Linked DNA regions of Homo sapiens. The protein of the gene in region 7 purifies or fractionates together with the protein of the main gene of each other region. This does not show direct contact. Each region holds a gene or a part of one and is shown on either strand. Other genes may lie near its edges. The genes, in order: SMARCC2, SIN3A, BCL11A, RBBP4, SAP18, RBBP7 and CHD3.

What was found.
Region 1: the proteins of CHD3 (region 7) and SMARCC2 fractionate together in Homo sapiens (co-fractionation; 3 studies listed by BioGRID, with this or other methods). This does not show direct contact.
Region 2: the proteins of CHD3 (region 7) and SIN3A purify together in Homo sapiens (affinity purification with western blotting; 3 studies listed by BioGRID, with this or other methods). This does not show direct contact.
Region 3: the proteins of CHD3 (region 7) and BCL11A purify together in Homo sapiens (affinity purification with mass spectrometry; 3 studies listed by BioGRID). This does not show direct contact.
Region 4: the proteins of CHD3 (region 7) and RBBP4 purify together in Homo sapiens (affinity purification with mass spectrometry; 9 studies listed by BioGRID and IntAct, with this or other methods). This does not show direct contact.
Region 5: the proteins of CHD3 (region 7) and SAP18 purify together in Homo sapiens (affinity purification with mass spectrometry; 2 studies listed by BioGRID, with this or other methods). This does not show direct contact.
Region 6: the proteins of CHD3 (region 7) and RBBP7 purify together in Homo sapiens (affinity purification with mass spectrometry; 8 studies listed by BioGRID and IntAct, with this or other methods). This does not show direct contact.

Annotation. Positions count from the first base shown.
Region 1 is NC_000012.12:56,168,518-56,172,496, forward strand, and holds part of SMARCC2 (SWI/SNF complex subunit SMARCC2), read right to left. Parts: intron 3,974-3,979; coding exon 3,911-3,973; intron 3,421-3,910; coding exon 3,162-3,420; intron 2,916-3,161; coding exon 2,754-2,915; intron 1,692-2,753; coding exon 1,627-1,691; intron 1,395-1,626; coding exon 1,259-1,394; intron 1,179-1,258; coding exon 1,012-1,178; intron 1-1,011. UniProt on the Homo sapiens protein: Involved in transcriptional activation and repression of select genes by chromatin remodeling (alteration of DNA-nucleosome topology).
Region 2 is NC_000015.10:75,406,386-75,410,902, forward strand, and holds part of SIN3A (paired amphipathic helix protein Sin3a), read right to left. Parts: intron 3,902-4,517; coding exon 3,749-3,901; intron 3,607-3,748; coding exon 3,451-3,606; intron 760-3,450; coding exon 670-759; intron 1-669. UniProt on the Homo sapiens protein: Acts as a transcriptional repressor. Corepressor for REST. Interacts with MXI1 to repress MYC responsive genes and antagonize MYC oncogenic activities. Also interacts with MXD1-MAX heterodimers to repress transcription by tethering SIN3A to DNA.
Region 3 is NC_000002.12:60,462,759-60,467,275, forward strand, and holds part of BCL11A (BCL11 transcription factor A), read right to left. Parts: intron 1-4,517. UniProt on the Homo sapiens protein: Transcription factor. Associated with the BAF SWI/SNF chromatin remodeling complex. Binds to the 5'-TGACCA-3' sequence motif in regulatory regions of target genes, including a distal promoter of the HBG1 hemoglobin subunit gamma-1 gene.
Region 4 is NC_000001.11:32,683,734-32,687,002, reverse strand, and holds the end of RBBP4 (histone-binding protein RBBP4), read right to left. Parts: 3' UTR 3,218-3,269; coding exon of another isoform or gene 2,914-3,217; 3' UTR 2,746-2,913; coding exon of another isoform or gene 2,621-2,745; 3' UTR 792-2,620; downstream 1-791. Other genes in the region: SYNC (syncoilin), read left to right, coding at 2,621-2,745, 2,914-3,217. UniProt on the Homo sapiens protein: Core histone-binding subunit that may target chromatin assembly factors, chromatin remodeling factors and histone deacetylases to their histone substrates in a manner that is regulated by nucleosomal DNA.
Region 5 is NC_000013.11:21,145,783-21,150,039, forward strand, and holds the end of SAP18 (histone deacetylase complex subunit SAP18), read left to right. Parts: intron 1-1,022; coding exon 1,023-1,145; intron 1,146-1,403; coding exon 1,404-1,560; 3' UTR 1,561-3,315; downstream 3,316-4,257. UniProt on the Homo sapiens protein: Component of the SIN3-repressing complex. Enhances the ability of SIN3-HDAC1-mediated transcriptional repression. When tethered to the promoter, it can direct the formation of a repressive complex to core histone proteins.
Region 6 is NC_000023.11:16,863,408-16,867,924, forward strand, and holds part of RBBP7 (histone-binding protein RBBP7), read right to left. Parts: intron 1-4,517. UniProt on the Homo sapiens protein: Core histone-binding subunit that may target chromatin remodeling factors, histone acetyltransferases and histone deacetylases to their histone substrates in a manner that is regulated by nucleosomal DNA.
Region 7 is NC_000017.11:7,905,473-7,909,989, reverse strand, and holds part of CHD3 (chromodomain-helicase-DNA-binding protein 3), read right to left. Parts: intron 4,370-4,517; coding exon 4,284-4,369; intron 4,135-4,283; coding exon 4,001-4,134; intron 3,868-4,000; exon of another isoform or gene 3,730-3,867; intron 3,438-3,729; coding exon 3,293-3,437; intron 3,122-3,292; coding exon 2,959-3,121; intron 2,865-2,958; coding exon 2,743-2,864; intron 2,638-2,742; coding exon 2,502-2,637; intron 2,390-2,501; coding exon 2,288-2,389; intron 2,100-2,287; coding exon of another isoform or gene 2,097-2,099; coding exon 1,971-2,096; intron 1,589-1,970; coding exon 1,480-1,588; intron 1,294-1,479; coding exon 1,161-1,293; intron 848-1,160; coding exon 652-847; coding exon of another isoform or gene 606-651; intron 1-605.

The DNA.
Region 1 (3,979 bases), on a different chromosome or scaffold from region 7:
ACATGCGCCACCACGCCGGCTAATTTCTGTGTTTTTAGTAGAGATGGGGTTTCACCATGTTGGCCAGGCTGGTCTCAAACTTACAACCTCAGGTGATCCACCTGCCTCAGCCTCCCAAAGTCCTGGGATTACACGCGTGAGCCACTGCGCCCAGCCTTTTTAAAAAATTAAATTATTTTGGCCAGGTGTGATGGCTCATGCCTGTAATCCCAGCGCTTTGGGAGGCTAAGGCGAGCAGATCACTTGAGTCCAGGAGTTTGAGACCAGCCTGGGGCAACAGGGTGAAACCCCATCTCTGCTAAAAATACAAAAATTAACCGGGCATGCTGGCACGTGCCTGTAATCCTAGCTACTTGGGAGGCTGAGGTGGGAGAATCGCTTGAACCTGGGAGGTGGAGGTTGCAGTGAGCCGAGATTGTGCCACTGCACTCCAGCCTGGGCAACAGAGTGAGACTCCATCTCAAAAAATACATAAATAAATAAACAAGCATGGAGGCTGGGCACGGTGGCTCACGCCTGTAATTCCAGCAGTTTGGGAGGCCAAAGCGGGTGGATCACCTGAGGTTAGGAGTTCAAGACCAGCCTGGCCAACATGGTGAAACCCCATCTCTACTAAAAATACAAAGAGTTAGCCAGGCGTGGTGTAGCACGCCTGTAGTCCCAGCTACTCGGGAGGCTGAGGCAGGAGAATCACTTGAACTTGGGAGGTGGAGGCTGCAGTGAGCCGAGATCTGACAGAGCAAGACTCCGTCTCAAAAGAAGAACATGGAGATAGTGTGGCAAAGGGTAACATGGAGTCAAATACTGACAGGGTTGAAAACAGGCCCAATGGTGATATATTTTTTAAAGCTTAGAGAAGGGATGACTAACTTTACCTCCTCCTGAGATAAAAATAAAAAATAAATAGGTCAGCATTATTTAAGGTGTGAGTGAGGAAAGATTTCCTCTAAGTGAGATGAGATTAGAGAAGTGGACATTTTCTTCCCTGAGGTCTTCAAGGTCTGGCCTCACCTTAGCTTTCACTGCGGCGGCGGCCAGGGCGGCGGCAGCAGCGGTGGAGAGGTTGCCCTCGCCAATGTCCCGCTCCACCTTTGTCTTCCTTTCCCCCTCAGACTCCACCACTTCCTTCAGCACTTCCTCCTGCCCTTCCTTTGGCTCCTTCTCCTTCTCAGGATCGACTGGGCCAGGACAAGGGTTGAGTTAGCCCCACAGCTTCACCTCTGTCCTGCACCCCCACCTACCCTTGTGGGAGGCTCACCTATTGGGTCTCCATCACTCTTCTCGGACTCCTTCTCACTGTCGCCTTCTTTCCCTTTCTCCTCATCCTTCTTGGGAGCCTCGCTGGTTTTCTCTTTTGCTTCCTCCTCTATAGCACCCCCTCCTTCTCGGGGTTCCTGAAATTCCAGTGATAGAAAAGGAGAGTTATCAGGGATTAGGGTGATTAGTTCTCACACAGAGGGGCCAGACGGGGAACTAAATTTATTCCTCTTACTTTGGAGGTGATCTGATTCTAGGAGACAACCCCGTCCAAAACCAGCCCTTGCCCACCTAAGCTGAACAAGGCCAACTTCCCCATCACCACAGTGCTGCACGCAGCCCCTGCAGCTTCCAGAAATCCCTCTATACCTTGGGCTCCTTCTTCTCATCTGTGGCCTGGCCTTCCACCCGAGCCTCGTCATTCCCGCTCTCCTCTGGGCCCATGAGAAAAGAAAGAAAACAGGAAATGTTTAATACACAGTCGTCTGTGTCTAACACTTTTCTTTTTTTTTAGAGACAGGGTCTTGCTGTGTTGCCCAGGTTGGTCTCAAACTCCTGGGCCCACGCAATCCTCCCACCTCAGCCTCCTGAGCAGCTTGGACTATGGGTGTGAGCCGTTGCACCCAGCTTCTCCATAACACCTGTTTTTTTTTGTTTTTTGTTTTTTTGTGACAGGGTCTCACTCTTGTCGCCCAGGCTGGAGTGCAGTAGCACAATCATGGCTCACTGCAGCCTTGACTTCCCAGGCTCAAGTGGTTCTCTCACCTCAGCCTCCTGTGTATCTGGGGCTACAGGCGCATGCCACCATGCCTGGCTAACTTTTTTGGTATTTTTTGTAGAGACGGGATTTTGCCATGTTGCCCAGACTGGTCTCAAACCATCTGCCCACCTCAGCCTCCCAAAGTACTGGGATTACAGGCATGAGCCACTGCACCCAGCCTTCACAAGACTTTTTTTTTTTTTTTTTTTTTTTTGAGAGACGAAGTCTTGCTCTGTTGCCCAGGCTGGAGTGCAGTGGCTTGATCTTGGCTCACTGCAACCTCTGGCACCCAGGTTTAAGTGATTCTCCTGCCTCAGCCTCTGAAGTAGCTGGGATTACAGGCACGTGCCACCACGCCCAGCTAATTTTTGTATATTTAGTAGAGACAGGGTTTCAGCATCTTGGCCAGGCTGGTCTTGAACTCCCGACCTCGTGATCCACCCACCTCGGCCTCCCAAAGTGCTGAGATTACAGGCATGAGCCACTGCGCCCGGCCTTCACAAGACTTTTCTAACAGCCCCTTCTACAAGCAAAGATTTTTCTACCCAAAATCTTCATGAGAGGACTAGTAGGGCTCCAGAGCCCCTGAGGTAAACTCATGGGGAAAATAAAAACCCTACCAATGTTCTCATTCATGTTGTGCTCTAATGCCAACTTGAGGCAGAAATGGCACAGGAGGCCAGGTAGCTCTGGATCTTGTGAAAGGCAAGAAATCTGGGAACCTGCCTGGCCTTACCAATCCGCTCAGGCTCATCAGAGGTGGTTCCTGCAATGCCACTGCTTTCCAGACCGAAGGCAGGGTCCGCCTTGCCTGTTACTTTGGCTGCTTCTTCCACTTTTCGAACATGGGCCTCCACCAAGGCCGTGGGTACCTCTTCCTTCATTTTGGAGAACTCCTCTGCAAGACCCAGAAAGAATGAGGCTGGGAGCGGCACAGTGGAACAGTTCTGGCAATCCCTGCAAAAGCTTACTCACAAGCCCATGTCTTCATCTAAGCTAGTATGGAGCCTAGACAGGTGCCTGAGCTGAGGCCCGCACAGACAAGGCCAGCAGGGCAGCCAAACTTGAGAGGATTCACAGTCTGAGTAACTAGCCCTTCAAAAGCAAACTAAGAAGGCCAGGTGGAACCACCCACCCCCATTACCTAGGGCTGACTTTGCAGCAGCAGAGGCGACTCGGGGATCGACGACAGAGGCCAGGAAGGCAACAGTGCTCATAACAGGGTTGCCCGACTGACTGAAGGGGATGGGTTGGTAGGCCAGGGGGCCTAGGGAGGCCTCTGAGTCCTCCAGGTATGGGTCTTCAATGGGAAGACGAAGAAAATGCAAGATGCACTCGTCCTGTGTGCGGCTTCCCACATGCTCGGACACTTTGTTCCAGTCATCTTTGTACATTTCCAGTGCCTGGTGGTAGTGGTGGAGACATAACTCCGCTTACTTAGCCACTTTTCTCGAAGGCTGACTCCCCCCATCCTACTAAGGGCAGCTGGTTTCAAAGTTCTCTATGTTCTGGTATTTGTGTACTCTGCTAGGTCCAAGGGGGATCTTGAAGTAGCACTAAGAAAGGATATGAAGTTAATGAAATGGCCCAAATCCCCAGCCTGGAGCTGGTCCTGAAGCTCACTGGAGCCTTGACCTCCTAGGCTCAAGCAATCCTCCCACTTAGCCTCCTGAGTAGCTGGGACCACAGGTGTGTGCCACCACACCTGGCTAATTTTTAAAATTTTTCGTAGAGACGGAGTCTCACTATGTTGCCCAGGTTCATCTCGAACTCCTGGACTCAAGTGATCCTCCTGCCTTGGCCTCCCAAAGTGCTGGGATTACAGGCGTGAGCCTCTACACGGAGCCCACTTCTGTTTTCAGAGAAAAACTCTCTTTTCTTTGCCCCAATTACCTCCAGGAGAAGCAGGGTTTCCTGTTCTGTCCACTCACGAGTGGCACTGGCTGCAGCCTTGCTCTGCAG
Region 2 (4,517 bases), on a different chromosome or scaffold from region 7:
CAATAAGATTACAAGTCATCGGCCAGGCGCGGTGGCTCACGCCTGTAATCCCAGCACTTTGGGAGGCCGAGGCGGGCGGATCACGAGGTCAGGAGATCGAGACCATCCTGGCTAACACGGTGAAACCCCGTCTCTACTAAAAATACAAAAAATTAGCCGGGCGAGGTGGTGGGCGCCTGTAGTCCTAGCTACTCGGGAGGCTGAGGCAGGAGAATGGCGTGAACCCCAGGAGGCGGAGCCTGCAGTGAGCCGAGATTGCGCCACTGCACTCCAGCCTGGGCGACAGCGAGACTCCGTCTCAAAAAAAAAAAGATTACAAGTCATCTTAAATCCTCAAAAATTGGTACAGGCACTGGTACTGCCTGCCACACAGACCTGGATATCTACAATGGGAGCTCCAAACATCTTTCAAGAGAAACATAATACATTTTCTAAAAATCTGTCTTCTGCCCCAAACTGCTTCATAAAACCAAAGCAAACAATGCTACCATTTTTCTAGCTATGCTAATAGTACTAGCAGACTCAAAGGACTCACAACTGGGAAACTATGTTAAAAAACAGAAAGTCCTAATTAGCCTGACACCTTTAAAACGAAACCTTCCAGGGGGATAAGATGATTTTCTTTTGGCATTAACAGGCACTATCAAATCTAACTCATCCATTACTCACCTTATCAAAAAATAACGATTCTGTTCCACCACCATGTTTGCTGGCATCTGCCATAGAAGAATCCTTCAGATTGAGCAGTTTGGGTTTCTTCTGCAAAAGAAAGATACAAACATGTGAGATTCAACGAGTGGTTTTCTCTGAATTTTATTTTTGTCTGTATTCAATGGTTTCATCACTGAAACCACTGCTGATTAATAATTTGAAACAAATGAGAGAACTCTAACCAACTCACTCCATACCCTCTAAGATTTCAACTCATATTTTCTATTTCAGTTTGCCTATTAAGTTTCTTTCTACAACAGAGGTTCAAAGATCATTCTACCCCCAAAATATTTTCTCCAGAAATGATCATGACATTACTGTGACAAACTTTTAGAATATCCTTACTTTTTCTAGGGGCCCAAAGTAACTTCATGTAGAATCTAATGCCACTGTTTTGTTCTCCTACCAGCTGAGGGAGAAAAGGCTGTTTGTAAAAAGAGCTCACAAATTGACAGAAATCAATCTTTAACCCTGAATAATATTTCAATTAAAAATTTACTTAAAAAGCATAATTTGCTGGGCATGGTGACTCATGCCTGTAATCCCAGCACTTTGGGAGGCCAAGGTGGGCAGATCATGAGGTCAAGAGATTGAGACCATCCTGGCCAACATGGTGAAACCCCGTCTCTACTAAAAATACAAAAAAATTAGCTGGGCGTGGTAGTGTGCGCCTATGGTCCCAGCTACTCAGGAGGCTGAGACAGAAGAATCGCTTGAACCCAGGAGGTGGAGGCTGCAGTGAGCCGAGATCACGCCACTGCACTCCAGCCTGGGCAACAGAGTGAGACTCCATCTCAAAAAAAAAAAAAAAAAAAAAAAAAAAAAGGCACGCCAGCAATATCCACTCAGACTAATTTAATATTGTTCTTCTAAAGGGAACCAACAGGCCATGATATAATCCTGTCAGGCAAGAAGTTACTTTTAAAATCCACCACTTACTCTCTATGAAGAAATGCACAAACTTTGTGAGAAGTAGCACATTTACCTTGGCTATCTCAGAGTATACTTTCTTAAGAGCCGCAGCCTCTGCTTACACTGCCTATGGAGAAAGTAGGCGGAGAATTTTAAGCCCCCACTATATTCTTGCCACCTGTAGGTAATCAAGAGTGGGCGGACGTAAATCCAAGCATGGAGTGTATCTACTGAGCTGATTCTTGCTACCCATATAACTAATTCTCTTTATTGAAATGAAGAAATAGAAACCATTATTATGTTCAACTTGATTTCAAAAGATTTCAAAAGAAGAAACCATGACAAACACTAATGAAAAGGATACTTCAAAAGTGTCAGTAACACCTAGTACGTCAGACCTTGTAGTCAGTCAATCACTATTCATCAGCCACCTCTTACTATTAGAAATTCCCAAACTTTTGTCATTATTTAATTCTGCAGACATATCTGTCTCTTCTATATTACATACTGCTTTGAAATTCACTGAAGAATTAAACATTCAATACATACAACTAGCCCTCTCCCTATCATAGCTGTGTTACATCAAAGAAGGGAGCAAGCTAAGTTTTCTGCAGGCAGACCATCAGTGTTAACTATAACAAAAAACATCATGTAATGGATTACTAAGAGGAGTTTAAGACTTCCCTCTGCTACAGCCCAAAGGTCCTGCCTTGGAGATTAAGATGATACACATAAGATCTGGTAACCCAACAAAGAACTTTGAGCAGGACAGGGTTCTAGACCAGAGATCTCAAAAAACACATGCACTCTACTCACAAGAGGACCTCAGAGACCACTTATTTCTGAAATAATTCTCAAGCTCAAGAATGTTCTTTCTTAACACAAGGCAGATTTAAAGCATCAAAGAAGAAGGGGCCAGGCGCGGTGGCTCACGCCTGTAATTCCAGCACTTTGGGAGGCCGAGGTGGGTGGATCACCTGAGGTCAGGAGTTCAAGACCAGCCTGGCCAACATGGCGAAACCCCATCTCTACTAAAAATGCAAAAATTAGCTGGGCGTGGTGGCACACGCCTGTAGTCCCAGTTACTCAGGAGGCTGCGGCAGGATAATTGCTTGAACCCGGGAGGCAGAGGTTGTAGTGAGCTGAGATCACACCACTGCACTCCAGCCTGGGCGACAGAGCAAGACTCCATCTCAAAAAAAAAAGAAGGGAAAAAAATTTCAAGTATTGGAAATTCTTAGTAGCAACCAAAACATTAAAGAAATGACAGCTCATTGCAAAGGAGAGATAATAAAGAACTCAGAAAAGTACAGTAATCCAAGCAATCAATGTTATTCTAATACTCTTTTGCAAAGCCAGATAAACTCTGCACTGAGTTTCTGTGACACAATACTAACTTCCTCCAAATATCTAGGACCCAACCGTTAACACACTTAAGAACACATGACTGCCGGGCACAGGTAATCCCAGCACTTTGGGAGGCCGAGGCGGGCAGATCATGAGGTCAGGAGATCGAGACCATCCTGGCTAACACGGTGAAACCCCGTCTCCACTAAAAAAAAAAAAAAATCAGCCCGGTATGGTGGCATGCGCCTGTAGTCCCAGCTACTCGGGAGGGCGAGACAGGAGAATCGCTTGAACCCGGGAGGCAGAGGTTGCAGTGAGCCGAGATCGTGCCACTGCACTCCAGCTTGGGCGACAGAGCGAGACTCGGTCTCAAAAAAACAAAAAAAAACAACAACAACAAAACACATGACCACCTCTAGAGTACCTCTCCATTAGAAATACTTGTGAGTGTCAAAATGAGCAGCTGCTGCCCATTCTCACCTTAACTGGAGGGGTGGTTCCTGTAGGATGTCTGCGGATCTGGCAGCCATTCTGGCTGGGCCTCTGCGGCTTGTTGTTCAGTTGGGGCTTCTTGACAGTGCCTCCATGATCATTTCTCACAGAATCAACCTTCTCAGCAGTTGTTTTGCTTAAAAGCTGATTAAGACACATGAATGAGATTAATGCTCTTATCAAAGCAAACAAATATCATCTAGGAAAAGTCCCCTTCTGAGCACAGTTTTCCAACTCATCTAAGATAATAATAGTAAATAGTGTAATTCTTATTAAAAAAACATACCACGGAGCTGTTGGCATCTGGTAGGAATTGTCCAAACTCTGACAACAAATCTTCCTGGTTTTTAAAGAGACGAGCAACCTGGGCATACACCTCCTGCTCTGTCAATGCTGGAGTGTAGTTTCCTCCAGCTTCCTTGGCATTTCTCTGCTCTTTCTGAGGAATTGCAAATGAAAAGAGATCATTTGGGCTACTGTTTTGAGTCACTCATCTTTGCACGCTTTCTGGAATCACTGTTATCTATTTAGGCTGCATGTAAGAAGAAAGTCTATGTTCTTAGCACCCGTTCTGACCACAGACTTTCAAGTTGAGAAAAAAAAAAAGTTGAAGATGGTGGATGACAATTCCTTTCAAAACTAGGGTAGTAAATATTTTTGAGACGGAGTTTCACTCTTGTTGCTCAGGCTGGAGTGCACTTGTCTCGGCCTCCCAAAGTACTGGGATTACAGGCGTGAGACACCATGCCCGGCCTAGGGCAATAAATATTAATGCCCAGGGGACCACTACCAACTGACAAAACCTTAGAAATTTCTCCTCCTCCTACTGTACATTAACTAGACTATATAAATCACCATCTAACTGTCCCAGATAAAACTGAGTTTCATTTCATGGGACAGTGACTAACAATCCTGACTGAGGCCGGGCACGGTGGCTCATGCCTGCAATCCCAGCACTTTGGGAGGCCATGGCGGGTGGATCACCTGAGACCAGCCTGGCCAACATGTTGAAACCCCGTCTCTACTAAAAATACAAGAAATCACTTGAACCCGGG
Region 3 (4,517 bases), on a different chromosome or scaffold from region 7:
TGTAGTTTGGGGCAAGCCATCTCATCTCCATGTGCCTCTGTTTCCTCCTTGTTAAGTGAGAAACTTGGACAAGGTGACCCAAGGAAACTTTTTGGCTTCCTAAATCCCAGCTTTCTATTCCCCCCTGGGTGACAGGTGAACTTTCTAAATAGGCAAACATTTCATAGAGGTATCAAAAAAGGGGAAGAAGGTCAACTCACTACAATGTTCTATGGCCCTAAAGATGCTTTCAGCATTAGCCTGAAACACACTAATTGTTGATATTGTTAAAATGAGAGGGTACTCATAAAATACTTCCGTGGAAAAAAGACTAGCAACATTCTCACACCCCAGACTGTGGGAGGATCAGTGAGTCCCAATTTTGGTTCCACAACACCCCATGGGGACGTCCATTTTTATCTCAAAGAATGTTTAAAAAATCTGAAAGAAAAACTTCATTCAGATTTAACGGATAGGCTGTATCCAATCTTTAGGAGTTGTCCCCCGGTCAGACAAATGCAAGTCTGGAAAAGTTAGGAGGAGTGGCTGGTGCCGACTTAAGCAGACACAGCATCCTAGTTTAAGGAACAGTTAAAACAGCCAGCGCCATGACAGGCAGCAGGCTGAGAAATGCTACACTATCCTCCTCCTCATTGTTTTGAGAGGCTAACAACGTGAACCAAATTATACAACATCCTGCGCCCTCGGCTGGGACTCAGCTCCAGTTGAGAAAGAAACAGAAAGATACAGTTCAGCTAGTCAACTCTGGCCAGTAGCCAAGCCGTCTGGAGAGGGGCCCTGCTTAAGTCACATTATTTCCCTTGCTGAAAAGAACCCAAGAGTGGTAAATGCCACTTTGGCAAAGAAGGGCCAGCTTGACTTCACAAAATATTTCATTTGGGGAGATGGCTAAATTAAATATATATGGGGAGATAGCTACATTAAATATATATATATATGGAATAACTGACCAACAGTTTACTAGTCAACTGCAACATTAAAAAGGGCAGAAGTAATGGTAGCCAAAGGACGAGGATGAGAAAAACAAAACTTCCCAGAGATTCTGAAAAAAAAAGCCTTAAAATATAACTGAGAAATAACAAACTTTTCTCCTTCTTTTAAAAGAAGGGCTGCAAGAGTTCTTTAAGGCCACAGCTAGTATTTGTCAGTAACTTTCTAAGAAGGAAAAAAAAAAAAAATCTACCAGGGAGGTTAAGAGTGAGAATGAGGAATTAATCAATTATATGATGCCTCCATTTAGCAAGTCAGAAAGAAAAGCCGGCAGGGTCTTCTCAGGAGCCCCCAAACACTGGTATTCCAAAATAAGCCAGCCTCGCTCAAGCACTTGTCTAAATAATGGACTCCTGCCCTGACCTTGTAATTTACTTTACAACGCATTTATAATCCCACTCAATATATCTCACTCCTGGGTAAATCTCTTAAACAAGATTAGATGGTAAGATACCAAAATTAGGTTTCAAACATTTGTCTAATGTGGAAGGGGGAAAAAAGGCAGAAAGATTTTGAAAGAAAACGCTGACATTAGTATCACATTATCTGCCTATTTTTGTTTGCCTCCTCTCTTCAAAGGGAAATAAAAAGCTTCATTGAGAACATTTTTATAAATTTTTTGTTGTTGTTGAACAATAACTTGGGTCCCAAATAGGCTGGAAAAAAAACTATCTGGTTCCAACTACATGATCCTCTGTGGCTTCCTCCTTGTCCTCCCTAGATCTCTGGGTGACTATCATTCCTATTTAGCCTGACGATCTGAGTTGGGCAAGTAAAAAGATTTGTCTGATAATCCAAGTCCTTAACACGTTCATCACTCCAAATGCCTTAAAATTATATTTTACCTTATAAAACATCGATTGAAATCCAGGACTAGACTCATAATTAGTGGTGCTGGTTTCACATGTGCCATGAATTGTAGTCATTGATAAATGCCAAAATCTGTGGCATACAGCACTACATCAAGGATCTCATTTGTATCCTTTCAAAAAGGCTTAAATGAGAAAAGTCCATTTTATTTTGCTGCCCTGAGCATCCTAAACTTTTTTTCAGAGCCAGTTATGTGATCATGCTACAGTATGTTAACACTGTGATGTTATCCTCCCCTCTCTCTCATACATCAGGTCAGAGAAAATGGCATTTTATCTTATAATGAGCATACAACATACAGTTTTCACTATCGCATTTTAGTATTCCCATCAACTAGATATTCTAGATCATGAGGGCAGCTAGTGTAATCATAATGTCAATGAGAAGGGCTGTTACGATTGAGACTAAAGATTACATGGAGAGAGCTGCTTTGAAACTGGTAATTATTACCAGTCCACTAATAGCAAATGATGCATTACAATTTCACCATATAATCTGTATTTCACTCAGCTCATGCCGGTGTACCATATTATATTACAGTGCTCACAGATTCTAAATTCCTAAACTGCAGTCATCAATAAATGTGTTACTTGCCATAATTTGTGAAATTACTTTGTTCATAACATCTTTGATGATTTAGAAAGACTGGAATTGATTTCCTGTGTGGCAAAATTAGGGCTACATTGATTTATTGATGTGTAAAATATAATAATATTCTTCATTTACTCTGATGAAAATCAACTTCTCAATTTGAGAGCCTCATTGGGCATTTACGGGGATTGTTTTGATTTAGAGCAATAAACTGACACCTGGCCCCTAAGCATAGGAACTTGAGACATCAAAAGGGTTAAAATCAGCTATTAGCCCACCTACTGGCTTTTATTTTATTTCATTTTACTTTATGGGAAGGAATGACCCCCATTTCTAGTATGTCACCAATGTGAAAAAGTCATGTGATCTAAGCCTCAAGATTCAGAAGAACAAGGAGGTCTGAGACTGGAGGCCTAGCTCTATTATCCACTAGATTGTAACTCTGGGATAGTCATTTGATTTCTCTGAGTCTTGGAATTCCTATCTGTAAAATGAGCATAAAAACAGTACCTGTAAGAATTGTTGGGAAGTTCAAATGACAGAAGTATATAAAAGCCCTCTGTAAACTATCAGGTCGAATGTGAATGTGAGTTTTCATTACTACCAGGGGTGATTAATTACTGAGGGTAATGACTAACCACATTACACACCCCGAACGGCTTCCAGAGGAAGGTCCCAGTCCAGGCCTTAACCCAGGCCAAAAGGAGGCTCTAGTTAAAGAGCAGGGGTGACTGGCACACAGCAGAGTGGCCACAGGGAAGTGCTATGAGCTCTGGAAGCCAGGGGCAGCAGGTTAATGCCGCCAAGTGGAATGGGCATCAGGTTTGTTCTAGAGCTTTCTGGACCCCCACAACCCACTTCCACATACCTTGTTCTGGTCACTCCTAAATTGGTCCTGCCAGCAGGGGCACCAGCAAACTATGTACCCTCCCTTTGTGGGAAGGTGGGAGAGGACAGGGGTTCCCTATCAAGCTCAGACTTTCCTACCAGTCAAATCAAACTCCCAGCCCTCAGGAAGACCAGGCTGAAGACCGAGAACTATGTTTCCCTGGCAACAGCCCTTGGCCTCTCAACTCCACCCTCCTCTGAACTGCTCAACTCCCTTCTATCCCTTCCCTCCAAAAGTGGCTCCGTTTCCACAGCCCCATGCAGGCCCCAGATGCCCCCAGCAACAGGAGAGCTCTCCCCACCCAGCCAGCATGCAGGGACTAGAAACCGTGAGCCCAACCTCCTAAACCTTCTGCAATCTGTGACCTAACCCAGGCTTAGGCCCAGCTTGGGGGAAGGGAGCAGATGAGGTGCTTTTAACCCCTGAACCACCCAGCCCTCAGGACCTGAGGGCTTATGAAATTCACACAATAACTCTTTGTTACCTAGGATTACCTAGGAGTTAACAAAAATAAACAACTGGCTTTGAATCTGGTCTCAGGGTGCATGCCCTGCTCTTCAGATACCATTTACAAGATGGGTAAGTGTCATCTCCCTCCCATCTAAAAACAGTCCCCCTTAGAGCCTTAACTCTGGCATCTTGCTCTTTGTTATTCTCTCTCCATGACCTTTTTCCTTTTCTTTTTTTTTCTTTCCACAGCAGGTTATTTTTCATTTACTTTCAAATAAAAATTAGATGTCACACTTCTTTTCTTCTTGAACCTGCTTTTTTGTGTTTAGGGTGGAATCACTGCCCACCCCCTAACCTTTTAGCCATGCATGATTCATACCATGTGTTCCTACACAGAGAAGCAAACTGTATTATTTTCTAAAACAGTATCTTTCAGAAAACATTTGTATAAATGGACAAATTTAAGTTTCATAAAATGGTCCCTACTATAAAAGCTCACTTGAACAAGTAAATGGTGGTGGCAGTGGTGGTGGTGGTGGTGGTGGTGATGATGGTGGTGGTAGTGGTGGTGGTGGTGGTGATGGTGGTGTTGGTGGTGATGGTGGTGGTGGTGGTGGTGATGGTGGTGGTGGTGGTGGTGATGGTGGTGGTGATGGCGGTGATGGTACTGGTGATGGTGGTGGTGGTAGTGATGGTGGTGGTAATGGTGGTGGTGGTGATGGTGGTG
Region 4 (3,269 bases), on a different chromosome or scaffold from region 7:
TAATTTTACATAGAATGCAATATATAAAGCAGTTAAAAGCGGAGTTATTCTCTAACGGAAAAGTACCAAGGGCACTCCAATTTGGCCAGCTTTTGGGGTTGCACAGAAAAGTTTGAGAACCACTAAAAAGCCTGTTACCTTGAGTATGAGCTCTAAGCCAATGGCAAATCCTGGCTCTATCACTAAGTTGGAAACTTTGGACAAATTACTTAAGCTCTGTGGCTCAGCACCCTCACATGAAACATGAGATTAATAATACTCCCATATCCATAGGGTTGCAAGGAATGAACTAGTAAGCCACTTTCCCACAATTCCATGACTATACATTGATTAGACCTCTTCTTCCCCTTTAACTCTTTACTCATCCTTTAAACCCATTTCCCTTCTTCCTGAAGTTTCCCGATATCCTTAGTGTGCGACAGATAACCCTCCTGTTTCCACAGCACCTGTTACTTTATACTACTATTGCTGTAGCAGTTCCCCTTTTCCTGAGTTGGGGAATGTATCCTTTCTTTGTCTTTGTCCTATGTAGAAAATTAAAACTGGCAATGCTGTCAATGCAAGTGCTGGGGCAACTGTAGACAGACATGTCCTGGCCCTTGAGAAATTAGTATCTAGGTAGAAGGCAGCAGAAAACAAGGGACTGGCTGTCTAGGTGAAAAAAGTGGCAGGAACACAGGCACACAGATCTGAGTTGTTAGGCTAGAGTAGTGCTGTCTATCACTGCAAGCAAGCCACAGATGTCATTTTAAATGTTCTGGTAGCTCTATTAAAAAAAGAAACAGATGAAATTAACTTTAATGCATTTTATTTAACCCAACACATATATTTCAACATGTAATCAGTATCAAATATTTTTGACATATTTTACATTTTGTGTGCTGTCTTAGAAATCTGCTGTGTATTTTACACTTACATTACATCTCAATTGAGACTAGTCATATTTCAAATGAGTCCTATGTGACTAGTGACTTCGGTACTAGTAGTCCAGGGCTAGAGGAAAATGTTCATACGGAAGAGTAACAGAGGTTCAAGTTGGAGGTAGGGGTCAAACTAGAGGGGGTCTGAATGCCACTAAAGAAAGTGGAAAGCCTTTGAAGGATTTTGAGTTGATTGTAAAGTTAATCTAGTGGTTAACACAGGATTAAGAGACCATCCTTAATGCCACTGTAGCAATCCTTCCTTCATTTCATTGAGGCTGTTCCACTCTGTCACAGCTTATCACTGGTGGTGCAGACTGCTTTTCCAAGCATGTACTTTTGTACCTTACCAACGGGTCTGGTAGGTAGTGAGGACTGAGCAATCAGGACAGCAGTATGCAGATGCTTCCCTCTTCAGATGACACACTCTTAGGCATGGCTGGGCACTAAAAAAGGTCCTTTGACAATGTTGGTGAAAGCTGAGATTCAGCCAGAGTATCAAACAGTGCGGATTGATGTGCCACAGGTACAATGTCAAGTATGACTCAGAGGACAAATTATCTAGATCCTTCTAATAATAGCATGTACCCCAACAACTGGATTCCTTAGTATTCTTCAAAATCTGAGGTAAAATCACTCTCGCTTTAAAAGATACCAACTTCACCCCTTCCTCTCTTCCCAACTCCCTCCTGCTTCCTTAAGGATCCATGCCAGCTAGCAGGTAAACCAGAGACTGACTTGCTGACATCTTCCTTACCTTATTCCTCAGGTATACATCCTAGGCAGGGAAAATTTACAGAATGCATCCCAGCCTGATTCTGGAAGAATGAGAAAGTTATCTGAGGGCTCCCAAGGGCCTCCTGTGCATACCATCTTTATCTTCCAACTTAGAACTAACCAAATTCAGTCTTTTTGTGTAATGAAAAAAGGATAAGCTGGGCACAGTGGCTCACACCTGTAATCCCAGCACTTTGGGAGACCGAGGCGGGAGGACTGCTTGAGCCCAGGAACAAGACCAGCCTGGGCAACATAGCGAGACCCTGTCTCTATACAAAAATAAAGAAGAAAAAAGGATGCAGGAAATTAGCAATAGGATAGCCAACACCCTCACTAAAGCATCAATTTCCATATGATGTTAAGTACCAGGTAGAAATCTCTCTGACTTTAAGGAGCTTTGGACACAAAAACTTTTCCTTAAACAAGCCATTTATTTTCTAAACATGGACTTCCACTAGTTGTGTAACTCTCCTAGAATTCTAGCCAATATTTAATAATTGTTGCCACACTTTTGTATTTCAACTTAAGTATTTTATATTATTAAAAACTACCAATTATCTTAACAAACCTGCACATGGAGGGAGAGGTATATGAAACTCAGCCCACTAACTAGACCAAAATCCTCCTCAATGACACTAAGGTTGTAATACTAAAAAGTCCCAATCACCCTCCCAGGATTCTATTAAAGCAAGCTGTGGTTAACAGACAAGATGCCTTTTTCGTCATCATTTTCAAAAGCATTGTCACTTTTTTTCCAAGACACAACTTCTTTGAACCTGTTTCATAACCTATCATATAAATACCAGCCTCAATACTGCTATCAAGATTAAACAATGAACAAAAAAGTGTTTTATAAGTAAGAGTGGACAATGTGAGTTTTTATTGTTTGGCTCATTAGAAATGTTCTTGGCCATCTCATGCAGGAACAGCTGGAGGAAATGGAAGAACGCCAGAGGCAGTTAAGAAATGGGGTGCAACTCCAGCAACAGAAGAACAAAGAGATGGAACAGCTAAGGCTCAGTCTTGCTGAAGAGCTCTCTACTTATAAGTCAGTTTCTGCTGCTATACAAATCTCATCTAATACTGGCTGAGGGGATGGTGGGAGGGCTTAGGGAAAATTTTACCTTAGAATCAAAAACAAAAAGAGGATTTGGGAAATGATTTTCAAATTGTGCTTATCCAAAAACACATGGAAAATGGCTCTCTCTTTTTAAAGGGCTATGCTACTACCCAAGAGCCTGGAACAGGCTGATGCTCCCACTTCTCAGGCAGGTGGAATGGAGACACAGTCTCAAGGTGATCTTTGTGAAGAGAAGAGTGGTGTTTGCATTGTTACTGCTTTCCTAACAATACTAATTAATGCCTTAAAAACAGGCCGGACGGGGTGGCTCACGCCTGTAATCCTAGCACTTTGGGAGGCTGAGGAGGGTGGATCACCTGGAGTCAGGAGTTCAAGACCAGCCTGGCCAACATGGCAAAACTCCATCTCCACTAAAAATACAAAAATTAGCCGGGCATAGTGGCAGGCACTTATAATCCCAGCTACTCAGGAGGCCAAGGCAGGAGAATCGC
Region 5 (4,257 bases), on a different chromosome or scaffold from region 7:
TGCTGGGATTACAGGCATGAGCCTCCGCACCTGGCAAAAAAATGTATACTAGGTTATTTCTAAGATGCTTATATGTTAAAATATTTTTTTCAGATTGTTCTCTTATTAGCTCAGGGGACTATATGAAAGTTGGATTCAAGTCAATATTTGCAGGGTAAGAAACTATTGTGACAAGAGCCTGTGCTTCATTGTAAGAAACTTTTGTATATTTCATTGGCTCTAGTACTCTTATCTGTTGTAAAACTTACAATTCTATCTAAGAAAGAAGAAACACATCTGGCTGGGCGCAGTGGCTCACGCTTGTAATCAATCCCAGCACTTTGGGAGGCCAAGATAGGTGGATCACTTGAAGTCAGGAGTTCGAGACCAGCATGGCCAACATGGTGAAACCCTGTCTCTACTAAAAATAGAAAAATTACCTGGGCGTGGTGGTGGGCGTCTGTAATCCCAGCTACTCAGGAGGCTGAGGCAGGAGAATTGCTTGAACCTGGGAGGCGGAGGTTGCAGTGAGCTGAGGTCACGCCACTGCACTCTAGCCTGGGCGACAGAGCGAGACTCTCTCAAAAACAAAACGTCAGTATGAAAATGCTTTCCTAGTACATTGATTCTAAGATACATTCCAATTTCAGAGATGCTAAAATGTGGAAGGGTACATGTCTTAGAACTAATGGGATACATCTATTTTGCATATTTGGATTTATTTGGACTAGTTACCCTTAGGTAAATCACTAGGCCATAAGGTGTTGTGTAGCAACAGAAGATAGCATATAGAATCTCTGAAGTCCCTTTTAGCACTAAGAGTCTAATTAATTGAAATTTCCAGCAGTAAGGCTGGTACATGGAGTTTTTGGAGGCAAATAGTATTTTTAGCTGCTTTAAAATTAATCTCTAGTATAAGACCCTGGCAGTTTCTAATGTAAATCACAACTCAGATATATGTAATTAACTCATTGTTAGTATCCCTTTTAATATTATTGCTGATTAATAAGCAAATGTAAATGTCTTTTTTAAAAAAAATCCAGGATGGATGCAACCTTGAAAGAACTGACAAGCTTAGTAAAAGAAGTCTACCCAGAAGCTAGAAAGAAGGGCACTCACTTCAATTTTGCAATCGTTTTTACAGATGTTAAAAGACCTGGCTATCGGTAGGTAACTTCTCATTTTTAAGTCCTGTAATCTCTTTGTTTTTAGTATGTTTTAACTGATACAGATAACTCCTTCAATGAATCTTGTTAGTGGGAGAATATGGGTTTATATTAATACGTGGTTTGGCTTAATAAAGTAGTTAAATTTTGGAAGTGTGTTATAAAATGATGGAGAAAATCCAGTGCCATATTCACTTTGTAGTACATACTGGGTTTCATTGATTTGGATCCATTAACAGTTGATTTTCTTTCTTACAGAGTTAAGGAGATTGGCAGCACCATGTCTGGCAGAAAGGGGACTGATGATTCCATGACCCTGCAGTCGCAGAAGTTCCAGATAGGAGATTACTTGGACATAGCAATTACCCCTCCAAATCGGGCACCACCTCCTTCAGGGCGCATGAGACCATATTAAATTCTATTTACTATTTGTTGAATTTATTTTTCCGTCAGTTATGTAAAATAAACATACTCTTCTTCCTCCCCTGATTATTGCCATTAAGCCTTTAAATTCTAAACAAATTATAATGCATCATCTATTTAGGAGTTAGATTTGGATGTGCTATTGTATGATTACGAATAGTCTGTATGTTTCAAGCCCTTCTGTAAAATATGAAGAAAAGTGCTCTTAGCATTCTGTGTAAAACTGTACTGTTAAATATATGTGTGTAATCAGCCTGAGTGTGAAAGTTAATGGAGGCCTGGGAACAGGGTTTATACTAAGTAGTGGAGGAGCGTATGGTTAAGCCCAAAGGGGCAGAACAAGAAAGCCACGGGATTGTATGAAATCAAACATGAGTTTGTGGTGTAGACTGCTGTATGCAGTTGGAAAGGACACGTGAGAGTGAGCTCAAGTGGCAGCAGAGGCAGTTTGGAATAAGCTGCGGCAAGTTGAAGAAGCTGTGTTGGACGAGATTGCCCCGCCTTGATCAGGGTACCATGACATAAAAGGTTAAAGAACAGGCAACACAATGAGCACTTAAGTTTTTAACATGTGGGGAATAGGGCATTTTAAAGGCTGGAACCAGTTCAGAGGAAACAAGGGTTTGGGTAGAGGTAGAAAGGTTTAATTAACCCTGGAGATCTGCAAATGGAGGGAGGGGTGAAGGAGGAATCTTAAGACCGAGGGAGAAGAGCCAAGGACAAGGTCAGGTTGAATGAGTAGGAGGTGTTCACACATCCTCTTGTGTGCTAGGTAGTGGCGTGCATCTGATCTGAGAGGCAGTAAAGCAGTGATGAAGACAGTGCAGCAGAACATTGAAGTCCTGATTGCAGCAGTGACTCTGCAACCTTGGATAAATTATTTCAATCTTTATTTTGTAAAACGGAGATAACGGCCTATAGGATTGTTAAGACTGAATATTTTAAAAGAGCTTAGAATGGTGCCTGACAAATGAGAAACAATAAATACTGATTATTGGCCATAAAGTGGTATTAAAACTGGATCTCTTTTCTTCCATGGCACTACTCTCATTTTGAAGTTTATGAACAGTACGACAGTGTATTGTAAATTCCCTTTAGTTTGTTACAGTAGCCAATTGAAAATGTATATCCCAAAATTTAAAAAAAAAAGTACCAGCAGCAATAAAATTGCACTAGTTTTATCTGGTACATACAAAAACAGCCATTTAAAATCTGATGATTCTGTGGAATTGGTGTCCCTGTTAGCAATGGCAGAGACCAGCCTGGAGCCTAGATCTGGTGCTTCTTCTGTGCTGTGGTTTACCCCAAACCTTTAGGTTGTTTATTCATTCAGATTAGATAGACTGGAGCCATAAAGTTAATTTGCACCTAGCTTTTTGGAGAATAGCCATGATTAACTGCTATTCGTGGTGGGGGTGGGGGGGAACCCTATGATTTACTATGCAGATGAAGAGGGTAGGAACTAAATAAAGGACTTTGTAAGCCAAAGTGGTTGGGCTGCTTTGTCAAATTCCACCCTTTGCTTGGTTCCAACATGGAATTTCTCCTTTAAAGATTTCAATATCCCATCAAAAGTACAGTTAGAGAATACCTAGTGAATTTATTGAATATAATGCTAAGAATCAAAAGACTTGTACTAGTTTACCTCTGGCTTTGGTAAGTGTGGCTTTGAGTAATAACTGAGCTGTTTCCCCGCATATAAAATAGAAATAAATAAGTAGTCATCATGACAGCATCTTGCTCAGTGCTTTAGTGTCTGCCCTGGTTGCCTCATTTGCTCCTAGGTATTTTGGAATTGACGTTTTCCCTTTGGAATATGTGTTACAGTACATGATATTGCCTATAATGTCTTTTTAGTTTTTCACGGTGTACAAAAACTGGGACGGTTATGCCCAGCTGATCATTGACTCAGGTAATGTTTTAGGTATCGGTTGTATGCATGTGAGGGGCAGGTGTGAATGTAGAAAGAAACATTATTAGGCTAGGTTTAAAATTCTCTAAAGTTGAACATAATAAGGAGCTGAACTTGATGCACCTCTTTCTTGTTCAATTAAACACATTTCAGACTTGTTTTTGTGAAATAGAAGGCAACACTCTAAATCAAGTTTGTAACTATGATTTAAGTGTTTACTTGTGCCAAACACAGATGGTTCCCAAGTTATGATAGTTCAACTTTAGATTTTTCAGCTTTGCAGTGGCGCATAAGCGATAAGCCATTCACTACGGTCCTCAGCTTATTATGGGGCTACATCCCAATAAACCAGCTGCCAACTGAACATCTTATAAGTAGAAAGGGCACTTCTGACTTAGGATATTTTCAACTCATGATGAGTTTATCCAGACATGACCCCCTAAGTAAGGAACATTGATACTGTGCTGAGGAACAACTTTACCAGCATTACCTCATGTAACCACAACTGAGATACAGTGACTATAGTTGCTATTTATAGGTGACAATGAGGCCCAGATTGAGGGGCTACTTTAACAGCTCAAAAATGGGGCATTGGACCTAGGTAGCCAAAAATAGAGGATTAGTTGAAACATTTCCAGAAATAATGTTCTTTCATACTCAGTTTCTTATAGTCTGGCATCCACCCACACTACACTGACACACTATTCTTGTAGTGATGTTATTCCCTACAAGTAGCAATTTTTGCCTGGTTATCTAAAGTAGACCTCTTCAGTTTTT
Region 6 (4,517 bases), on a different chromosome or scaffold from region 7:
CAGTAAACACAGACAAACATCTACACAGGAATCCACCAACAATCCCCACACTCATAAATCACAACTTCCCACCTAAAGAAATCTTCTTCCCACCTAAAAATATCTTATACACTAGATGTTTCTTATTTCCCAATAAGAAATTCTACAAGGTAGTATGGACAGAAAGTGTTGAATCAAAAAAACTTAGCTTAAATCCTGGATCAAACTAAAATGCAGTTGCTTAAAACACAACCTCCCTGGGGCCTCAGTTTCTTCACTGAATAAAATAGGCTATAAGTGCAAATGGCATGATGTGAAACTCACTGACGTTTATGATACCTAAGTTTATGAAACGAACATTCTCAATTTTACCGAGGTATCTTTGTTACCTTGTTCTGTGGAAACACCTTGAGGCTGAAGAACTTGCCCAAACCTCTTGGCACCTTGGTCCGAGCAGTGATTTTTGCATCAGTATCTATTAAAAAGGCTTTCCCATTTGTATTATCTAGAATACAATTTTCAACTGTGCTCCATGGTCCCACTTCAATGAAGAGGACTGAGAAGTAGGGGTCTAGGCCCTAACACAAGACAAGTTAGGCCATTTATCTGTTTCTAAATTTCAGCTGCACAAAGGATTCAATTTTTTTTTTTTTTCTAAAAAGATTGAAGATTACTTCTAGGCAAGTAATTTAGTAATAAGAAAATACAAGATGCAATTTTACCAAAATTTGGCTTACGGTAAAAAAGTGTGTGCACATGGAGAAGAGACACACACACACACAGACACACTCCCCCCAAAACAGAGTAAGGCAGCCGTGACTAAGCAATAGCAACGTGTTTGAAAAAAAGACAAATGGGCGCCGTGGCTCACGCCTGTAATCCCAGCACTTTAGGAGGCCAAGGCAGGCGGATCACCTGAGGTCAGGAGTTCGAGACCAGCCTAGCCAACGTGGAGAAACCCCATCTCTATTAAAAATACAAAATTAGCCGGGCATGGTGGCGCATGCCTGTAATCCCAGCTACTCAGGAGGCGGAGGCAGGAGAATCACTTGAACCTGGGAGGTGGAGGTTGTGGTGAGTCAAGATCTCAAGATCACACCATTGCACTCCAGCCTGGGCAACGAGTGAAACTCCGTCTCCAAAAAAAAAAAAAAAAAAAAAGAAAAAGAAAGAAAACATGGGTCTTGGTTGATACATGCACAGTGGGCCAAGAATATGATGTGGCTATCAAAAAATTAATTAATTCCATCTTAGGTGGTCTTTATATGTATGTAGGGGGCAATGCACATGAGCACATGTGCCCCCCACCCCCGACCTTTTCTTTTTTTAAGAGACAAGGTCTCACTATGTTGCCCAGGCTGGCCTCCAACTCCTGGACTCAAGTTGATCCTCCTACATCAACCTCTTCAGCAGCTGGGACTACAGATGTGTGCCACCATATCTGGCTTGCCCACTTATTTTTAACCAGTAAAACCATTAAAATTAGGCTCTAAGCAACATACTTTATGAGGACTTGGATAAAAATCAAACCTTTACAGGGAATAGTGGCTTAAAATGAAAGGGTAAGCCAGGTGCAGTGCTGTGCACCCGTAGTACCAGCTACTAGGGCTACTACGGAAGACTGCTTGAGCCTAGGAGTTCATGTCCAGCCTGGGCAACATAGCAAGACCCTGTCTCAAAAAAAAAAAAAAAAAAAAAAAAAAAGAATAAATATTTGGCCGGATGTGGTGGCTCACGCCTCTAATCCCAGCACTTTGGGAAGCCAAGGCAAGCGGATTGCTTGAACCCAGGACTTCGAGACCAGCCTGGGCAACGTGGCAAAATCCCATCTCCACAAAAAACAAAAAACACAAAAACAAAAAACAAAAATTTAAATAAATATTTAAAAAGAGAAATAATAATGCTTGAGAGAAAGAAGGCACCACAGAGCAATGCTGGTACTGTCATCAAAGGAAAAAAGTCACTTGTTTTTTGTGGAGTTGAGCAGGAAAACTAAGACCAACAAGTAAAAAATAACAGGTAGGTCAGTTTATCACAGGCCCTTTCTAAGGAACACTGTCCCAAGACGGACTGGAGGAGCTTAAAAATCCCTCTGGACTCAAATTTAATTATTCCAGTTTTCCCCAACTTGATCATCATATGAGGACTTTTCTTTTTACTAGAAATCCCTTCACCTCCATCATTAAAACACAGCCTGTTTTCCTAAACTAATCAATATGACACTATTTTCCTCCAATACTGGATGTACCTAAAGGCTGCAGAAGGACTAATGGTTAAGAAAGCCTATTCATTTTCAGTGCAGAATCCTTTGACCCCAGTAACTACCACTAGGAAATTTAGCCAAGCATCACATAAATCTGGCCTATTGCAAGATTATTCTCAGCAGTATTGTTTATAGAAGGAAAAAGACTGAAAATAACTAAGTATCCATCAGCAAGGAACTGGTATCATACATTACACAGTGTATCCATAAACAAAATTCTATGGCACTCTTGAAAAGAACAAGCATATCCAAGCATGCTGACAGGAAAATCTCCAATACATACTCTTACTGACAAACTCAAGTGAAGAACTTGCTACCATAAAAAATGAAGATACAGGTATGCACTTCTACACGCTGGCAAGGATGGGTTAGGAAATTGAAAACAATGACTGGGGAAAGGAAGTAGGACAGTAAGGGATGTGGAAAGGGGACTTATTCTTCACTCTATGTCCTTTTATACTTCCTGAATTTGAAAAATTACAAAGCTTTTTAGGTAGACAATAAGTTAGTCTCAATATATTTAAGACATTATTCAACAAGAGATATGAAATAACTATCTAATTAAAACAAATTTCTTAGAGATACTTAAATAAAACCTTTTAAAAGCCAAATCAACACCTGTAATCCCAGCACTCTGGGAGGCCGAGGCGGGCGGATCACGAGGTCAGGAGTTTGAGACCAGCCTGACCAACATAGTGAAACCCTGTCTTTACCAAAAATACAACAATTAGCTGGGTGTGGTGGCACAAACCTGTAATCCCAGCTACTCAGGAGGCTGAGGCAGGAGAATCGCTTGAACCCGGGAGGTGGAGGCTGCAGTGAGCCAAGATGGTGCCACTGCACTCCAGCCTGGGAGACAGAGCGAGACTGTCTCAAAAAAAAAAAAAAAAAAAAAAAAAAAAAAAAAAGAAAGAAAGAAAGCAAGAAAGCAAGAAAGCAAGCCAGCCAGCCAAATCAATTATTTGGACAATTACCTAACTCAATTGAAGGACAATAGCTAAGAAAGTCCAAGTAATCGTTATGAAGCATGTTGTAAGTCAGCAGAAGAAAGGCCTATGAGGTGGAGTAGGATCTTGTTCCTCAGAGTCAGGCATTGAGAATAGTCAACATTTTTACTGTTCTGTATGGTGATAAAACACAGTCCCTTTATACCCCAAACTGAACCCTGCAAAGCACCACACAACAATCCTCAACATCCAAGAATGCAGGCTGCTTGGCATTTTCTTACATTCTCTAAGCCACTGCACATCCCACAACCCAATCCCACAACAGCTTTGTATACAAAGAACACCATGATACACATTAAATAATTTAATTAAAGCATTTTGTTACATTCCTAAGTATTACATATTATAGGTAACATTTTTTTAAAAAAAACTTCAGCAAGTAGCTTTCATTGAAATCCAAATGAAGAAACAGAGCTATTTCAATCCTGACAAATTATTTCTGAACAGGAAGGGGTGGGAGAATCAGCATCAGTCACCACTTACCGTGTACTTATGCTGCACCAGGCACTTTAACATGCATGATCTTATTTCATTCCCTCAAATGTAGGTAGTCAGTATGACCAACATCTCCATTTACAGCCCAGACAACACGGCCCCAGTTCATGAAGCTAAGAAGTAGGGGCATGATTTTAACCCAGGTCTCTAAGTTTAAAGCCCCTGCTGTTTTCTATTATGTTACAGTGGGTCAAAAAGATCCCCCAAAAGGTAAATTTAGTTAATACATTTTAAATCTGCTTAACAGACCAAAGAGGCAAATGCACACGATGCTCCAAACCAGAACTTGAATACCCGAGTATATGATGCTTAATCTATTTTTCAATCTGTTGTGGCTGTAAACGTCAATGCTTCCAAGTCTCCATCATTTAGTTCTTCTCTACTCTTCCCACATCTGTACATTTATATTTAGATTTTTGGGAAGCCTAGTGGAAATTCCTATCTGTATAGAAATCAATGTTTGCATATGGAGAACCCGGCCACTGTAAGAGCAGTTTTATATACATTAGATTATTATTATAATAATTATTTTTATTTTTAAGAGATGGAGTCTCGCTCTCGCCCAGGCTGGAGTGCAGTGGTGCGATGTTGGCTCACTGCAACCTCCGCCTCCCAGGTTCAAGCAATTCTCCTGCCTCTGCCTCCCTGTAGCCTGTAGCTAGGACTACAGGTACACGCTGCCACGCCCGGTTTTTTTTTTTTTTTGGTATTTTAGTAGAGATGGGATTTCACCTTGTTGCCTGGGCTGGTTTTGAACTCCTGAGCTCAGGCAA
Region 7 (4,517 bases):
TAATATGTAAGGGGAGAGGGAGGTTAGAAGGTCAGTATTACAGATTCAAGGAATTAGAACAGGGATCAAAGGGGCCAGGAGTCAGTGACTACACCAGGCAGGATTAGATGGTTAGAGGGCTTTGGGATATAATCTCTATCAATGGCAAGGTGAGAGGGGGTAGGAGGAAAGGTCGAAGGTCAAAGGGAAGTTTCATGGGGTAAGGCCAGAGGGTTGGATGGGTGGTAGTTTCTGCCTTATGGGGTGAAACACATGTGAGGGAATGTGATTTGTTTGATCACAGCCAGGGATCTGTATGGTGCATTCACAGTCCAAGGCCCCTAACTGGATGATGTTAAGCAGTATGGCAGGCATGCAGTTCCACTGCCAGTGAAGAGGCCCCACTGTGTGGAGGGGACACAGAGGCTGGGGCAGGTCCCTCTATTGGGCACGGATGTGAATGCTATCAGACATGGATGAGGGTTGGCTTGCACAAGTCCTAGAGGCTAAAATCCAAGGGGGTGCCAGGTCGGTAGGAGTGGGGTTAGAGGTCAGAGGGGGATGGTTCAGCAGGTAGAGGGGTCAGGGGGTGGGAAGATTTTGAGGGGTGCGGGGTGAAGACTTACGCAGCGTTGTGGGCCCTCCCCCGCGCGGGGCCGCCGCGGCCCTTACCCTTGTGCAGGACGGCGTTGGCCGGCTTGTTCCCCGCCAGCGACTCCTTGGAGAGGTGCTGGTGGCTCTCGGCCAGGCACTCGGCCTCGGCGAAGCGGGCGTGGAGGGCCATGGCGGGGTGCGCCGGCTCCTGCGACAGGTTCAGGTAGGCCGCCCGCCGCAGCTGCTCCTCAATCACCAGCGCCTGCTCCAGGAGCTGAGGGCACAGAGTTGGGAGGTGAAGGTAGGGCTCTGCCAGCAGTGGGTGAGGGGCTGGGGGGGCGGACATAGCAAGAGACCCACCCTGCCCTCACTGCTGGCCCAGGGCACTCCCAGCTCCAAACCGACTGCGAACCTAGCAGCAACCCTGACCCAGATCACACTCCCAAGCACAAGGTTACACTTTGGTCTTGGCCCCAGGTATCACCTCAGCCCTGAAGGTGTTAACCTTCCCTAGGTTCCAACTAGATCTGGTCTCACTTCTGACCCAAGCCCGTCTATAACCCGCTCCTTTCCTCCCTCATTCCCACCTTGAACCTCCGGGCCAGGAACTTATTTTTCATCTCCAGAAAGTTCCCCTTATTGGCTTCAGTTTTAAATGGCTCGTTGATAATGGCAAATTGAGCATCATTCTGGATGTCCTGCCACCGTGCATAGCCATGGCTACCAATGAAGGAAAAGGAACCATCAAGGAATTTAACAGGAATGGGCTTGGCTTTGAACACTTCTTCCTTTTGGCTTGACTCCCCAAAGTGTGGCACTAGCCCTGTCCCTGGGTGTGAAATCATCTTTTTTTTTTTTGCCAGCTTGAGAGAACCTTTTCCTTCTTGCATGTGTATCAAAGGATACAGGACAATCCCAGCCAGAAGCCAATAGTCATGTCTTCTGTGCCAGATCTCATTGAGTTTCCCCGAGGAAATAGCTGCCCGTTCCTCATTCTGCCACAGTGTGTGAAGCTCTGCAAAGAAGGCAGCAGACAGAAGAGGTAACAGGGTTTTGCAGACTGCACTCAGTCCAACAGACAGGTAGAGATGGAGAAACTGAATAATGAAAGGGAACTAAGGGCTCCTGAAGAGGAATGGGTAAAGGTTAGGTTTGGAACAAACTCAGTTCTAACCAGGTTCGTTAGAATTAAGAATAAAGGTGGGATTAGGGCCAGCTTTGGAGTTAAGAGGGATACTTAAGAAAGATTTAGAGCAAGGATCGGAGTCAGCATGCAACATACTTCATTGGAAGTTACTTGGAATTAAAGGTAGCAGGAAGCCTCAGGCAAAACGAGAAACCCCATGAGGATGAGCAGATCCCCTTGAGGAGCAGAAAGCAGCGAGAGTCTCCCCAACCTGTGAAGCCACCATCGGCGATATTGAACATGAACCGGGGCTTCTCTGTCTTTTCCTCTCGTCGCCCATTGGACCGTGGCTCATCTCGAGGCCCTGGTCGAAGCTCCCGGTCACCTTTTACATCTTCTGCTAGGACAGACAGGTCAAAGCTCACACCTCAGGACACCCTCCTCCCAGGTCCCAAGACTACTATCTGTACTGTACTGTACTGGCCTTTCAAACAGCTACCCGCCCAGGACCCAAGCATTCGGTTCCCCAGACTCCACCTCCCCTGATGCCCTCTGGGACCCAGGTGTCCGGTCCCTTCCACCCATTACCTCTCTTGCCCAAATCCCCTGTTTCCCCCTCCGGCCTCTCCCTGTGTTCCTGTCCATCCAACGGCTTCTCCTCCCCCCTTTCTCCTGGCGTCGACTCTGTGGCTGTGGGAGGGGGTAGGGGATAGGAAGGGAGGATGTTACCCTCATCCCCTGACCCCAGAAGAGGGAAATCCCAAATTCTAATCCCCCATCACTCCTAAGGCCATGCACCCACCTGACTTCTCTCTGTCCCCACGGTACCCAGGTTCAGGCTCCATCTCTCCAGGCACCCCTGGCACCTCATCCTCTAGAGGAATCTTCCTTGGCTCCAGCCGCTCCCCAAGTGATGGGGCTGGGCTGGGGGCATCAGCCTGGAAGAGGACAATGGGGTCAGGATGAGCCAGAGGGCTCCCAGGTACCTGGCCTCCAAGCCCCCTCCCCTCCCGCTCCACAGGGGAATCCAGGGAGCCACACACCTCTGTCTCCATCTTCTCCCCAATTCTGCTGTTCTTCTCTGGCTTTTCCTCCTGGTTTTCAGCTTCCTCCTTCTCAAGAGGTGTCCTTATGCCTTCTCCTTTCTCACTTGGAGCTGGAGTAGCTGCAGGGGAAGGCACAGTGATAAAGACAGAGATTCTCCCGCCCTGACTCCTGGCTCCCTTTCTGTCTCTCCCACCATCCTGACTTCTGATTACCAGGTTTAGAGGTGCAGGGACTGTTGGTAGCAGAAGCCTCAGGAGTGGTGGGAGACGTTTTGGTAGGAGAGGAGGCTCTGGAGGAGCGCTTAGAATCGGCGCTGGGGTCAGGCATCAGTTCCGGCATTGACCAACGCCCATTGATGTGCTCAAACTCCTGCACCTGGGGTGGCAGGGTGGGAGGGTTAGGTGTCAGCTCCAGGCGCTTACAGACAGGAAGCTCCAGTCTCCTCCGTCTCACACCAGCGCAAGCTTACAACTCAGGGACAGAGGCAGAGGAAGGACAGAGACTAGGCAGCCAGCTTGATTCTTTGGGTGACAGGAAGACTGATACCTTCTTTTTGACGAGAGACATGACTCCAATGCGGGTCAACACCTGCTGGCGACTCAGTCCCTCCCGAGGGACCCCATCGGCAAAGGTTTCAGAGCCGTCTGCCCCAGGCTCACACAGATGGCGCATGAACAAAGACACATAGGCCCTAAGGAGCATGGGAGTGGGAGGAGGGTTAGGGGAGCCACAGAAGGGGTATAGGGCAGTGAGGGAGGCGCGAGGATGACTGAGGACCCCCAAACCCCCAAATCCCCAGGTGCTCCAGGGCTCCTCCCCTGGGCCTCTCACTCTCACCATTACCAGCCCTCCAAGTCCTAACTGTCCCCCTGCGCCCCACCCCTGGGTCTTTCCCTTTGGCCTTGGTACTTAATTCCTGGGCCCCATCAGTCAGCTCTTCATCCTTTCCACCAGCTCCTCCTGCCAGGTTATTGTGGTCAAGTAAATGTGAGGCTAGGACAGCCCAGGAGAGGCTCCTTGCTTCAACGCCCCTCCCCTGGGGAGGATGCCTGGCCCCTCTACTCTAGGCTCGGCTGAGGGGAGGTGGAGTGGGCTGAGACCACCCCCCAGGAAATCGAGCCAGGAAGTATTGTATGACAGGGAGGGTGATAATCAGTTGAGTAAGGTCACATCATATGGCGGCCCCAAGGAAGAAAGGAACACCCAAAGCTCTTCCCCTTGCGTCCAACTCAGCCCTGTATCACCCACACTCACTTAAACTCCTTCTCAGTCTTGCCCCTCAGGTCCCGCACCAGCCACTGTGTGGTGAAGGCATCCTGTGGTGGCATCCCCCAGCGCATCACAGCATTGAGGAAAGCCTTCCGCTGACGGGTGTTGAAGCCCAGCACCTGAGGGTGGGAGCAAGGAGGCAATGGCGACAAATGTCTAGGGTTCTTAGGTCTTGTCCTTTCTACCTTCAGTGATCCAGGCACCAACTTCCAACCTCCTGCCCTCATGCCCTCTTGGAGAACTCAGGAACACTGGGCCCAGCTCTCACCTCAATGTTGCCCCCGACTCGGGCCAGCAGTGGAGGCAGTGGCTTATCTTTCTCATTCCGGAGCTGCCTCTTTGACTGTCTACGCCCTGAGGGTGGGGATGACATCAGTTAGCTGAGCCACCACCTCCTCTAAGCCTCAGTCCTCCTTAGCACCCCATTCCCACAAGATACACAACACAGGAACATTCCTGTCACGTTTGAGGTGCTCCCAATTCTCTCCCAAGCACTTCAGAA